3 linked regions of the Homo sapiens genome follow. The protein of the gene in region 2 purifies or fractionates together with the protein of the main gene of each other region. This does not show direct contact. Each region holds a gene or a part of one and is shown on either strand. Other genes may lie near its edges. The genes, in order: GGPS1, CFAP107 and PM20D2.

Region 1 (3,654 bases), about 220 Mb from region 2:
ATTTGTATGTTGTAAGTCTTTGTGGCAGTGTATACATTTGTGTTGCAACTTATTAACACATACACCGGGCTTTTTTTTTTTTTTTTAGAAGATTCATAGCTTTCATCATATTCTCAAAAGGTTTCTGTGACCCATGAGATGGTTTACAGTATGGGGAAGCATCAAAGCACTTGCACAGTTGATGGTTATATGTGTGTGTTATTATTTCAGCCACCCATTATCATGTGCTTACCAACTGCCTAACAGTGCATACATATGTAGAAGTTTTATTCTTTTCTCCTGTTGCCATATTATACGTCTCATTTCACAGCAGAAAAACAACTGCATGACAGAGACAATGTGGTTCAAACCATTTTACCCTTGTATTCATTGACTGCTACAAAACAGGAACATTAAATACCTGATTGTCACCAAATTGGGTAGTCTCAGCACTTCTACACTCGTAATTGTGCTGGAAAAGTGGAATGCTAGCACTAATAATTAGATTTTGGTTTGGAGGGTTTTTTATTTGTTTATTCTTACTTGTATAAATTTATGGGGTGCAAGTGTAGTTTTATCACATGCATAGATTGCATTGTAGTGAAGTCAGGACTTTTAGGGGGTCCATCACCCATGTAATCACGTTGTACCCATTAAGTAATCTTTCATCATCCACCTCCTTCCCACCTTCTCACCCTTTGGAATCTCCATTGTCTATCATTCCACACTCCATGTCCATGTATACACATTATCTAGCTCCCATTTATAATTGAGAAGATGTACTATTTGTCTTTTATGTCTGACTTGTTACACTTAAGGTAAGGGCTATCCATCCATTTTGCTGCAAATGACATGATTTCATTTTGTTTTAATGGCTGAGTAATCATTCGTTGTATATATACCACATTTTCTTTATTCAGTCATCTGCTGATGGACACTTAGGTTGATTCCATATCTTTACTATTGTGAATAGTGCTGTAATAAACACATAGTGCAAGATTTTGGAAATTTTACTTTTGTGGCACGTTGTTGGTATTTACTCAGGATCTTTGGATTTGCTTGGCTGCATGTATATGAATCAGTGTGTTTATTTACTGAAATATGTGCAAAAGTCTTGTCTTTGGTGGATTAATTTATAATATAAATCCACAAAAGTCAGATTCTGCTCCTAAGTATATTTTACATTTTTAAATTTAATGCCAGCAAGAAGTTACAGTACTAGAATTGCCTTACCCCTGAGAGTATCAATGATCAGATCATAGTATCAGGTGACTGGGCTATAGAAGATGACTTTTATTACTTAACATTATGAAGTTACTAGGGCTGATTTAGAAATCGAGGAACACTGGTGAAACCCCGTCTCTACTAAAATACAAAAATTAGCTGGGCGTGGTGGTGGGCACCTGTAGTCCCAGCTACTCAGAAGGCTGAGTCAGGAGAATTGCTTGAGCCCAGGAGGCAGAGGTTGCAGTGAGCCGAGATCGTGCCACTGCACTCCAGCCTGGGCGACAGAGTGAGACTCCGTCTCAAAAAAAAAAAAAAAAAAAAAAAAGGAACACATCCTCACTGTTACAATAAATAACAGTAGCCCACACCCCCTTAGTTGTGATGTGGTGTGATACCATGTAAGCAACCTATTTCCAGTTCCCCTAACATTCTCAAGCAGCTGTATCAGAATCATACAAGATGCATATTTAAATTGAAGATTTCTAAGTCTCTGGCCCAGACTTAGAAAAAAAGGATCAGGCCGGGCACAGTAGCTAACACCTGCAATTCCAACACTTTGGGAGGCTGAGGCGGGTGGATCGCCTGAGGTCAGGAGTTTTGAGACCAGCCTGGCCAACATAGTGAAACCCCATCTCTACTAAAAATTCAAAAAATTAGCTGGGCGTGGTGGCAAGAACCTGTAATCCCTGCTATTCGGGAGGCTGAGGCAGGGGAATCACTTGAACCCGGGAGGTGGAGGTTGCAGTGAGCCAAGATTGCGCCACTGCACTCCAGCCTGGGCAACGAGCAAAACTCCGTCTCAAAAAAAAAAAACAAAAGGACCTTTGAGCAATCAGAATAACACAAAGTACATGAACTGAACTTCATTTTCTTCATTCAAAAGAAAGTGGCCCTCACTCAAGCAAATATATTCTTGTGCTTTATCTTCTGGCATACTGAGATAACTTTCTAAAGTGGTTTCCAATTCCAAAATCCAATGATGTGCAACTCATTGAACAGCCCTAACCACAAACTGCCATTAGATGCCATATTACATTTAGCCTTTTTGTTGTAGAAAAGTTGGTTAGAAGTGGGCTCAGGATTCTAAAGACTAAATCATAGTCCCAAGAAGCAAAAGAAAGAGGATAAAAGTAATAAACTTCCCAAAATGTGCCAAAGATGCTAGAGCAGTTAGATTCCTAATATGAGGACAAGTAATAATAGAAACAGATACAAAGAAATAAAGTAGAGATTCAACAGTACAGGGAGACCCTAGGAAGACCATGAGTGTTATTCTAGGAAATACTGAAATAAGACAGATTTCAGTATAAAGGGGAATATGTTTAATAAATATATGCATTTGAGTTAATGCGTATTTTAAATCAGAAATCTCTGAAATGGATTGATTGTAGAGAAACTACTAGGGGGACGAGGAGAATCCCTTTAAATTTTAAATACATAAAACATACTCATCTTAGTGCTCATTTAAAAAAGGATATGTTTACTAATTAGTGTAATCAGTTAAATACAGAGGTATCTTTCCAATTCTTTGGATGTGTTTTGACATTTGCCGTCAACAAATTAAGCCTTTTGTGGTTGATTAAAATAGGAAAAGCTTAATATAAGTTATGTGACTAAGAAAACAACTTAAAAACCAAGACAACACTTTGACCAATATAATCACTTGAATGAAGAATTTTCTAATTGAGATATAATTTACATACCACCCATTTAAAGTGTACATTTCAGCAGTTTTTAGTGTATTCACAGGGCTGTGCAACCATCACAATTTAATTTTATAACATTTTGATCCCTGCGAAAAGAAACCCTGTACTCATTAGCAATTAGTCCCTGTTCCTAACCACTAATCTACTTTCTTTCTCTGTAGATTGGCTTATTCTGAACATTTCGTATAAATGGAATCATACAATATGTAGTCTCTTGAGATTGGCTTCTTTCACTTAACATGTTTTCAAGGCTTCATAGCTGTAGAATCTTGCTTTGTTTTTTTGAGACTGGAGTCACTCTTTCGCCCAGGCTGGAGTGCAGTGGTGTGATCTCAGCTCACTGCAACCTCTGCCTCCCGGGTTCAAGCAGTTCTCCTGCCTCAGCCTCCCAAGTAGCCAGAACTACAGGCACACACCACCATGCTCGGCTAATCTTTGTAGTTTTAGTAGAGATGGTGTGAAGGCTGGTCTCGAACTCCTGACCTCATGATCTACCCACCTCAGCTAATTTTTCATATTTTTAGTAGAGACAAGGTTTTGCCATGTTGCCCAGGCTGGTCTCGAACTCCTGGGCTTAAGCTATCCGCCCGCCTCAGCCTCCCAAAGTGCTGGGATTACAGGCGTGAACTACCGTGCCCAGCAACAGAATCTTCTTTTTAAACCAGACTAGGTGTCTTTTCACAAACACCCTGCAATACAAATTCCTTTGCAGTTTGACACTGAAAGATGATTAGTTTCATGT
Region 2 (3,654 bases):
TTTACGCGATTTTTTTTTTAGCTCATCAGCTACCGTTAGTGTAAGTTTGTTGTTGTTGTTGTTGTTTTTGGGATGGAGTCTCACTCTGTCACCAAGGCTGGAGTGCAGTGGTACCATCTGGTCTCACTGAAACCTCCGCCTCCTGGGTTCAAGCGATTCTGCTGCCTCAGCCTCTGGAGTAGCTGGGATTCCAGGCATGAACCACTATGCCAGCTCATTTTTGTATTTTTAATAGAGACAGTGTTTCACTGTGCTAGACAGGCTAGTCACAAACTCCTGACCTCAGGTGATCCGCCCATATAGGCCTCCCAAAGTGCTGGAATTACAGGCATGAGCCACTGCGCCCAGCCCCTGTTCATTTTTTTATGTGTGGCCCAAGACAATTCTTCTTCCAATGTAGCCCAGGGAAGCCAAAAGATTAGACGCCCCTGCTTAGCATATCCTGGGTCTCCCTCACTCCTCGCAATCCATCGCTGTCCCCCAGGGCCTCCAGCTGCAGCACCTCTCTGTCCTGCAGCCATTTACCTCATGCTCCTCCCTGACTGCTGGACTGAGGCTCTGTGAGGTCAGGGCCTGGCCCAGACATGGCTCAATGGATGCTCAATAGAAAGGCTGGATGTTGGAGGTGTGAGGACAGCCAGCTCCACTCCATCCCACAGCTGTCTCCTGCAGCAACCTTTCTGCACCCCCTGGCTCCTCCTCCTGTCATTCATTCATTCAACTCATTTGTTCAACTCCTGTCATCCACTCATCCAACAAACATAGAGGACTTAGCCTGTGTCAGGCTCTGACTTTCAGTTGGGATGGAAGACAGCGTCCTTACATGGACACTTGGATGACTAAGGAAGGAACTTAGTAGGTGCCAAAGTGACCCTAAGGTAGGTGCAACCTTTCTGCACCCCCTGGCTCCTCCTCCTGTCATTCATTCATTCAACTCATTTGTTCAACTCCTGTCATTCACTCATCCAACAAACATAGAGGACTTAGCCTGTGTCAGGCTCTGACTTTCAGTTGGGATGGAAGACAGCGTCCTTACATGGACACTTGGATGACTAAGGAAGGAACTTAGTAGGTGCCAAAGTGACCCTAAGGTAGGTGGCCTGAGGCCAGCAGGTATCCTGTGAAAACAATGGCAGAGACTCAGGCTCCCATACTGGGAGTCATATTATTGGTGTGCAGTACAAAATCACTGACAAAACACACCTGTGCCCATGAGCCAAGCATGCAAAGGGCCAAAGGTGTCTGCTGGAATTTCTTCAAAGAGGCAGCTCTGTGCGAGCACTGAGCATGCACACTTGTGGACCCCTGTCCTGGGCGAGGACCATGCCTGAGTTCTTCTGCTAGGAGATCCACCCTCTCTCCCAAATCACTCACCAGAGGTTCTCCCCTCTGCCCAGGCTCATAAAGATTTGAGAGCTCAGCCAGGTGCGGTGGCTCACGCCTGCTAATCCCAGCACTTTGGGAGGCCGAGGCAGGCGGATCACGAGGTCAGGAGTTCGAGACCAGCCTGGCCAACATTGTGAAACCCTGTCTCTACTAAAAATACAAAAATTAGCCAGGCGTAGTGGTGCGCACCTGTAGTCCCAGCTACTCAGGAGGCTGAGGCAAAAGAATCGCTTGAACCCTGGAGGCAGAGGTTGCAGTGAGCTGAGATCGTGCCACGGCACTCCAGCCTGGGCAAGAGAGCGACACTCCGTCTCAAAAAAAAAAACAAAAAAAAAAACACAAAGATTTGCGAGCTCAGAGACAAAGGAAATGCCATGTGTTTTCCCCTTCTTCTGAGCCCCGTGGGGCCAGAGCACGCCTTCCTCTGCCTTGGCAATGACAGACAAGCTGGGGTCCTTCCCCATTGCCAGCTCTGCAGCACTGCCCTCCTGGGAACCACATTCAGTCATTCTGTGGAGTTTTCATGATGGGTTTCATCATCAGATTCATTTCCTCCATGGGAGTAGACTCTTCAGCAAGTCACATTACCTCTCCGGGCCTCAGTTTCCCCTCTTGTGAAACAACAGGGTAGAACTTAAGGGCCCTTCCTGTTTTCTCTGACAGTCTGAATCTGTCTTGTGCACGTACATAGCCCTGCAATAGTGTCAAAGATCTTTAATTGTTGGATGGAAAAGAAAGGAACCTGTGGGTTTTGAGGGGGGACAGGTACCGCCAAATGCAGATGATGATTCTGAGAGCACCTTTGACGGGCCAGATCTCGTACTCTGAGTTTATCTGCGCCACTTGTTGTCTGGCAAGTCCAGTGATGCTGTGGTCTCCAGCTGATTCTATCTGAGCTGCTCCTGGGGTGGCAGCTCTCAGAAGTGTGGGAGAGGATGCAGGCGATGGGGAGGGACCGGGACCGCATGCTCCCTCCAGGACATAGCGCACAACGGTGGTCTGGGGTAGGATGAAGTATAAGTGCTCTGCTTCAGGCCAGCCTTGGGTGTGAGCTGTCTCTGCTTGAGCTGCTCATAGAGTCCATAGTTTGTAGGGGGAGCTGCAAGAGAAACCAGGGTCCAGTTGAATGGGGCTTACAGAAGGAGTCTTGCTCTAAATGGCCAATGGCCACGAGACTGGGCAGCAGGGGCCCTGGAGATTTTCCCAGGCTGCTCTGTCAGGGACCAAGGCTGGCAGAGGCCCACAGGGAAGAGCCTTGCAGAGAGCATTGGTTCAGCCAGCCCCTGGCGGTCTCAAGGTGCACCTGCATCCCAAGTGCTCAGGGGAGATCAGGCTCTGCCACGGGGGCCTTGGAAAAGTCAGCCCCATGGTGTGGTTGTGCGTGGCCTCGCTGGTCCTGAGTAATTGTCCCACCCCTGTCGGGAAGGAAGCTGTGTGCACTGAGAGTGATGTTGAGAAGAATCCCATGCAAAAGTAATGCAGAGTGACCAGCAGCTCATCCTCTGACCTGTGTCCCTTTGCATCAAAAGGTAGGACCACAAAGAGCTGGCACTGCTCTGTGTCCTCACTAGTGTGGACGTGGCTTGAAATGTAAATCACATCAAGGCACTCTCCTACAAAAGTGCATTCCAAGTCTTGGGATTGTGGATAGGACAAATTTCATTCCCTTCACTGTGCCCTATGAACCCCTACATGATCCTCCTCCATTCCTGCCTTAGAACTTTTTCATTTACTGTTCCTTCCTCTGGAATGTCCTCCCCCTCAATCCCTGTATGGCTCCCTTCTTCCCAATTCAACTCTATCTCCTCAACAAAGACCACCCCTCACTTTTCCAAGGAGGAATTTGTGAACCAAAGGAGGTTCACAAATTCACCACCTCACTTTCTCTCCATTACCTGTTTTCTTTATAGCGCACACTCCTGTCTAAAATTATCTATGTGATCTTAAGTGTTCTTACTTTTTAATGGTGTCTTATCTGTTTCCCCCCTGGAATGTCAACTCCCCGAGTCCAGAAATTCCTCAGTGTTTGTTATCATTGCAGCAGGGAGCACTACCTGGGAAATATTGTCATTATTCATGTAGTAAATAAGACTGGGAGGAAGGATGCGTGGATGTTGCTCCCTGCCACCTGTGCTCTAAGCCCGCCACCATGGGGCACAGGTGATGGCTTCATTACACAGCCAAGATTACCCCAGGTCAAAGGGAAAGGACAGGAGGCAGCCCTGAGGGTACAATAGAACTCAGCCCCTACTATGTCATCCGCTGCTC
Region 3 (3,654 bases), on a different chromosome or scaffold from region 2:
AAACAATTCTCCTGCCTCAGCCTCCTGAGTAGCTGGGATTACAGGCGCCTGCCTCCACACCCAGCTATTTTTTTGTATCTTTAGTAGAGACGAGGTTTCATCATGTTGGCCAGGCTGGTCTCGAACTCCTGACCTTGTGATCCACCCACCTCAGCCTCCCAAAGTGCTGGAATTACAGGTGTGAGCCACCACACTGACTGGTTTTGTTGATTTGAACTATAAAGTTAGTATTTAAAATCATGTACTGTGTAAAGTGGAGTGAGTTTTAGAATTATACAAGATAAGAATCTTGCCCTAGAGGGAGCCTGTAGTCTAGTTGGAGAGACAAGATCTTGACCCATAACTCTCAGCCTAGCTAATTCTGTAACCTTTAGAAATGTTTAGTGTCTTTGGCTCTCCATTTTCTTGCTTGAAAAATGGAGATAATAACAATTTATCTTAGGATTCTTGTGAGAATTAAATGAGATAATGTTTCTGAAGGGTTTAGAGCCCAGCCTTCATTTATATTGCCTTATTTTTTTCTGTTCTTATTAGTCTAGAGATGTATGATTGATTCACGTAGTAGCAGTATCTCACAGTAGCAGTAATTCTCAGAAAGCATATGTTACGTGTCCTGAGAGTAGTGTGGAATGTGTCGTGAGGATCAGAGGTGGGAAAGAGTGGTCTGGGGCTGTTAACCTTGGAGGAAGGTTTTGTGGAAGACTGTAGACCTGAACTGAGCTTTGAAGGTTGATCATACTTTCAGATATGCATGGGAAAGACAGAGACTGAAAGTTCTTAGGGAATATAGTCAGCAAAGATAAGAATATAGAAGCTCGTGTTGTGTTGTAGTTAATCGATAAACATATGGACAGATGTAGGAGCAAAGATGTATTCTCATATGCCACTAGAGAAGATGGTTATAGTGAATGAAAACTGTGAAATGTCCATAGCTGAGGGCAGTAAAAACTAAATATTTATTCCCTTATTCATTTATAATTATAAATATTTATTTGTGAAATACTTATGGATGTGAACTATTATCATTAGGCAATATCTCAAGGTATACAGTATTCCCTTATGGTAAGGTTTGTTGTTATTGGATTTGAATCTATATTTAATTTAATTTATTTATTTTTAAAGTTTTTTGTAGAGATAGGCTCTCCCTGTGTTGCCCAGGCTGGTCTCAAACTCCTGGGCTCAAGTGATCCTCGTGCTTTGGCCTCCCAAAGTTCTGGGATTGCAGGTGTGAGCCACCTTGCCTGGCCTAAATCTATATTTTAAATAATCTTTTAGTAATTTCTTATATTTTGGCTGACTTGTAAGGTCTGATTTGGTTGTCATAATTTCTACCGTAGATGTTGCTAAGAATAAAAGAAATGTCATCTCTGCCATTTTATGATTGGCTTTTGCTAATATTGGTTTGAGGGAATATTGCCAATTTTTATTTAATCAAAACTGAATCTGTAAATCCACTTAACTGGGCACATAAAAGCTGCTTCCGTATCTTTATATACTGAAATTAATAAATGAGGACTGTTGTCAACCCTTCCTCATTGCAAATCTTCTACATTTCCCTCAGAGTACTTTTCTACCTCTCACACCAGGCAGTGATGTCAGTGTCAGTTTGCATATTGAATATTAGTAAAGCTTAATTTCTTTTTTTTGGAGACTGAATCCTAGAGCAGTGTTCCTCAGAGTGTGGTTTTTGGGTCACCTATGTCAGAATTACTTTGAGGTGCTGGTTAAAATAAAAATTAGGCTGGGTGCAGTGGCTCATGCCTGTAATCCCAGCACTTTGGGAGGCCGAGACGGGCAGATCACATGAAGTCAGGAGTTTGAGGCCAGCCTGGCCAACATGGCAAAACCCCATCTCTACTAAAATACAAAAACAATTAGCTGGGCTTGGTGGCAGGCGCCTGTAATCCCAGCTACTTGGGAGGCTAAGGCAGGAGAATCATTTGAACCTGGGAGGCGGAGGTTGTGGTGAGCTGAGATCACACCACTGCACTCCAGCCTGGGCAACAGAGTGAGACTCCATCTCAAAAATAAAATAAAAATTTCTGGGCCCTTCTCATACCCTATCTAGGTGACTGAAGTTGACACTTGGTAGCTAGTATAGAGCTTGGTGACATTGTGGGGTTTAGTGTATATATAGCATAAAAGAGAGTCCTAGGAACTCTCGTTATAGAAAATAAATCTTTTTTCTTTTTTAAGGTAAGAGATTTGAGAGTGTTTATATCTGGAAGGGAAAGTATCTTCTCTTAAAACCTCTTCCTATTAGAGAACAATCACTGGTTTGAAAATTAGATAGTGAATTTGAGTTTTTTATTTCAAAATTTGTTTTGCAATTTTTTATTAGGTGGAAATTAAAGGTGGAGCACATGATTATTACAATGTTCTTCCCAATAAGAGCCTATGGAAAGCCTATATGGAAAATGGAAGAAAGCTAGGAATAGAGTTCATTTCAGAAGATACAATGTTGAATGGCCCTTCAGGTAATTAAGTGTTTTTTTATATATTGAGCTATTTGAGGAAGAGAAATACCATCTTTGGTTAAATTGGTTGTATTTAATGGTTTGGGAGGTCGGGAGGTACTACTGACGTTTTTAATATTTTCACAAACTTTATGGTTAGGGGAAAGAAACTAATGGACTCTTAAGTGAGTGTAGAATGTCAAACGAGCAGACTTGATTTTAGAAATAGTCAACCTACATTTTTGTCTGTATTCTAAATATTTTCTAGTGTTTAAGTTTCGTTAGTTTTAATTTTTAAGTAAGTTGCTAAGGTGGGATATAGAATTTTAATTCATTCTCAGTCATCACAATAAGCAGGTTACTAAGTACTTAGTTATCTGGGGCATTTTCAGTTTCTGAGGAGCAACAGACAGCTAGAATTGAAATAAGCATATTTGGGGTTATGTTAGTTTTTTTTTCCTTTTAAAAGCATATTATTACTAATACATTTGCAAGTTAGAGATGTATCATCTGTTTTAAAAATAGATGTTGTTGAAGTAGGCCCAAAAGGACTTGGTGGTGAAAATGGGGTGTCGGTGTCATTCATTAAGATAAGGAGTTCAAGAGAAAGAGCAGGTTAGGGTAAGAGGGGGTTGTTATAAATTATTAGTATGTTAAACTTGAGGTGCTTATAGTATTTCTAAGTGGAGCTGTTCAGTACCTGTTAAATCTAGAACCCAAAAAGATGTCTAGTTTGGAGATTTAGGAGTTGTCCATATATGAAAGGTATATAGAAGACATAGATGTCGATGAGGTTGCCCAAATACATAGAGGAAGAAGATTCCCAGAGATCAGACATTGGCAGTCAACGAAGTGGTCAGAGAGAAAGCCAGACAATCAGGAGAGAGGAGAAGTCATGGAAGCCAAGGGAGAAGAAAACTTACAGAAGAGAAGGAGGCATAAATCATGTCAAGTGCTGTAGAGACTGAATAAGATGAATATGGTCTAGTGTCCACTGGACTCTAGTAATTAGAAATTCATGAATTGTCTGGAAGAAAATAGTATAAGACCAGTGGTACCAGATGCTGGGTCTCACTTCTCTACCCAGGGCATTGACTGCTGAGATAGTGGAAGTAGCAAATGAAGACTATTCTTTTTCAAGAGAGTTAGCTTTCAAGGAAAATAGAAAGAGTGGATACAAGCTTGAGGGAAATACGGA

What was found.
Region 1: the proteins of CFAP107 (region 2) and GGPS1 purify together in Homo sapiens (affinity purification with mass spectrometry; one large-scale study listed by BioGRID and IntAct). This does not show direct contact.
Region 3: the proteins of CFAP107 (region 2) and PM20D2 purify together in Homo sapiens (affinity purification with mass spectrometry; one large-scale study listed by BioGRID and IntAct). This does not show direct contact.

The regions. Positions count from the first base shown.
Region 1 is NC_000001.11:235,331,561-235,335,214, forward strand, and holds part of GGPS1 (geranylgeranyl pyrophosphate synthase), read left to right. Parts: intron 1-3,654. UniProt on the Homo sapiens protein: Catalyzes the trans-addition of the three molecules of IPP onto DMAPP to form geranylgeranyl pyrophosphate, an important precursor of carotenoids and geranylated proteins.
Region 2 is NC_000001.11:12,759,601-12,763,254, reverse strand, and holds part of CFAP107 (cilia- and flagella-associated protein 107), read right to left. Parts: intron 2,486-3,654; coding exon 2,304-2,485; 3' UTR 1-2,303. UniProt on the Homo sapiens protein: Microtubule inner protein (MIP) part of the dynein-decorated doublet microtubules (DMTs) in cilia axoneme, which is required for motile cilia beating.
Region 3 is NC_000006.12:89,155,984-89,159,637, forward strand, and holds part of PM20D2 (xaa-Arg dipeptidase), read left to right. Parts: intron 1-2,341; coding exon 2,342-2,477; intron 2,478-3,654. UniProt on the Homo sapiens protein: Catalyzes the peptide bond hydrolysis in dipeptides having basic amino acids lysine, ornithine or arginine at C-terminus. Postulated to function in a metabolite repair mechanism by eliminating alternate dipeptide by-products formed during carnosine synthesis.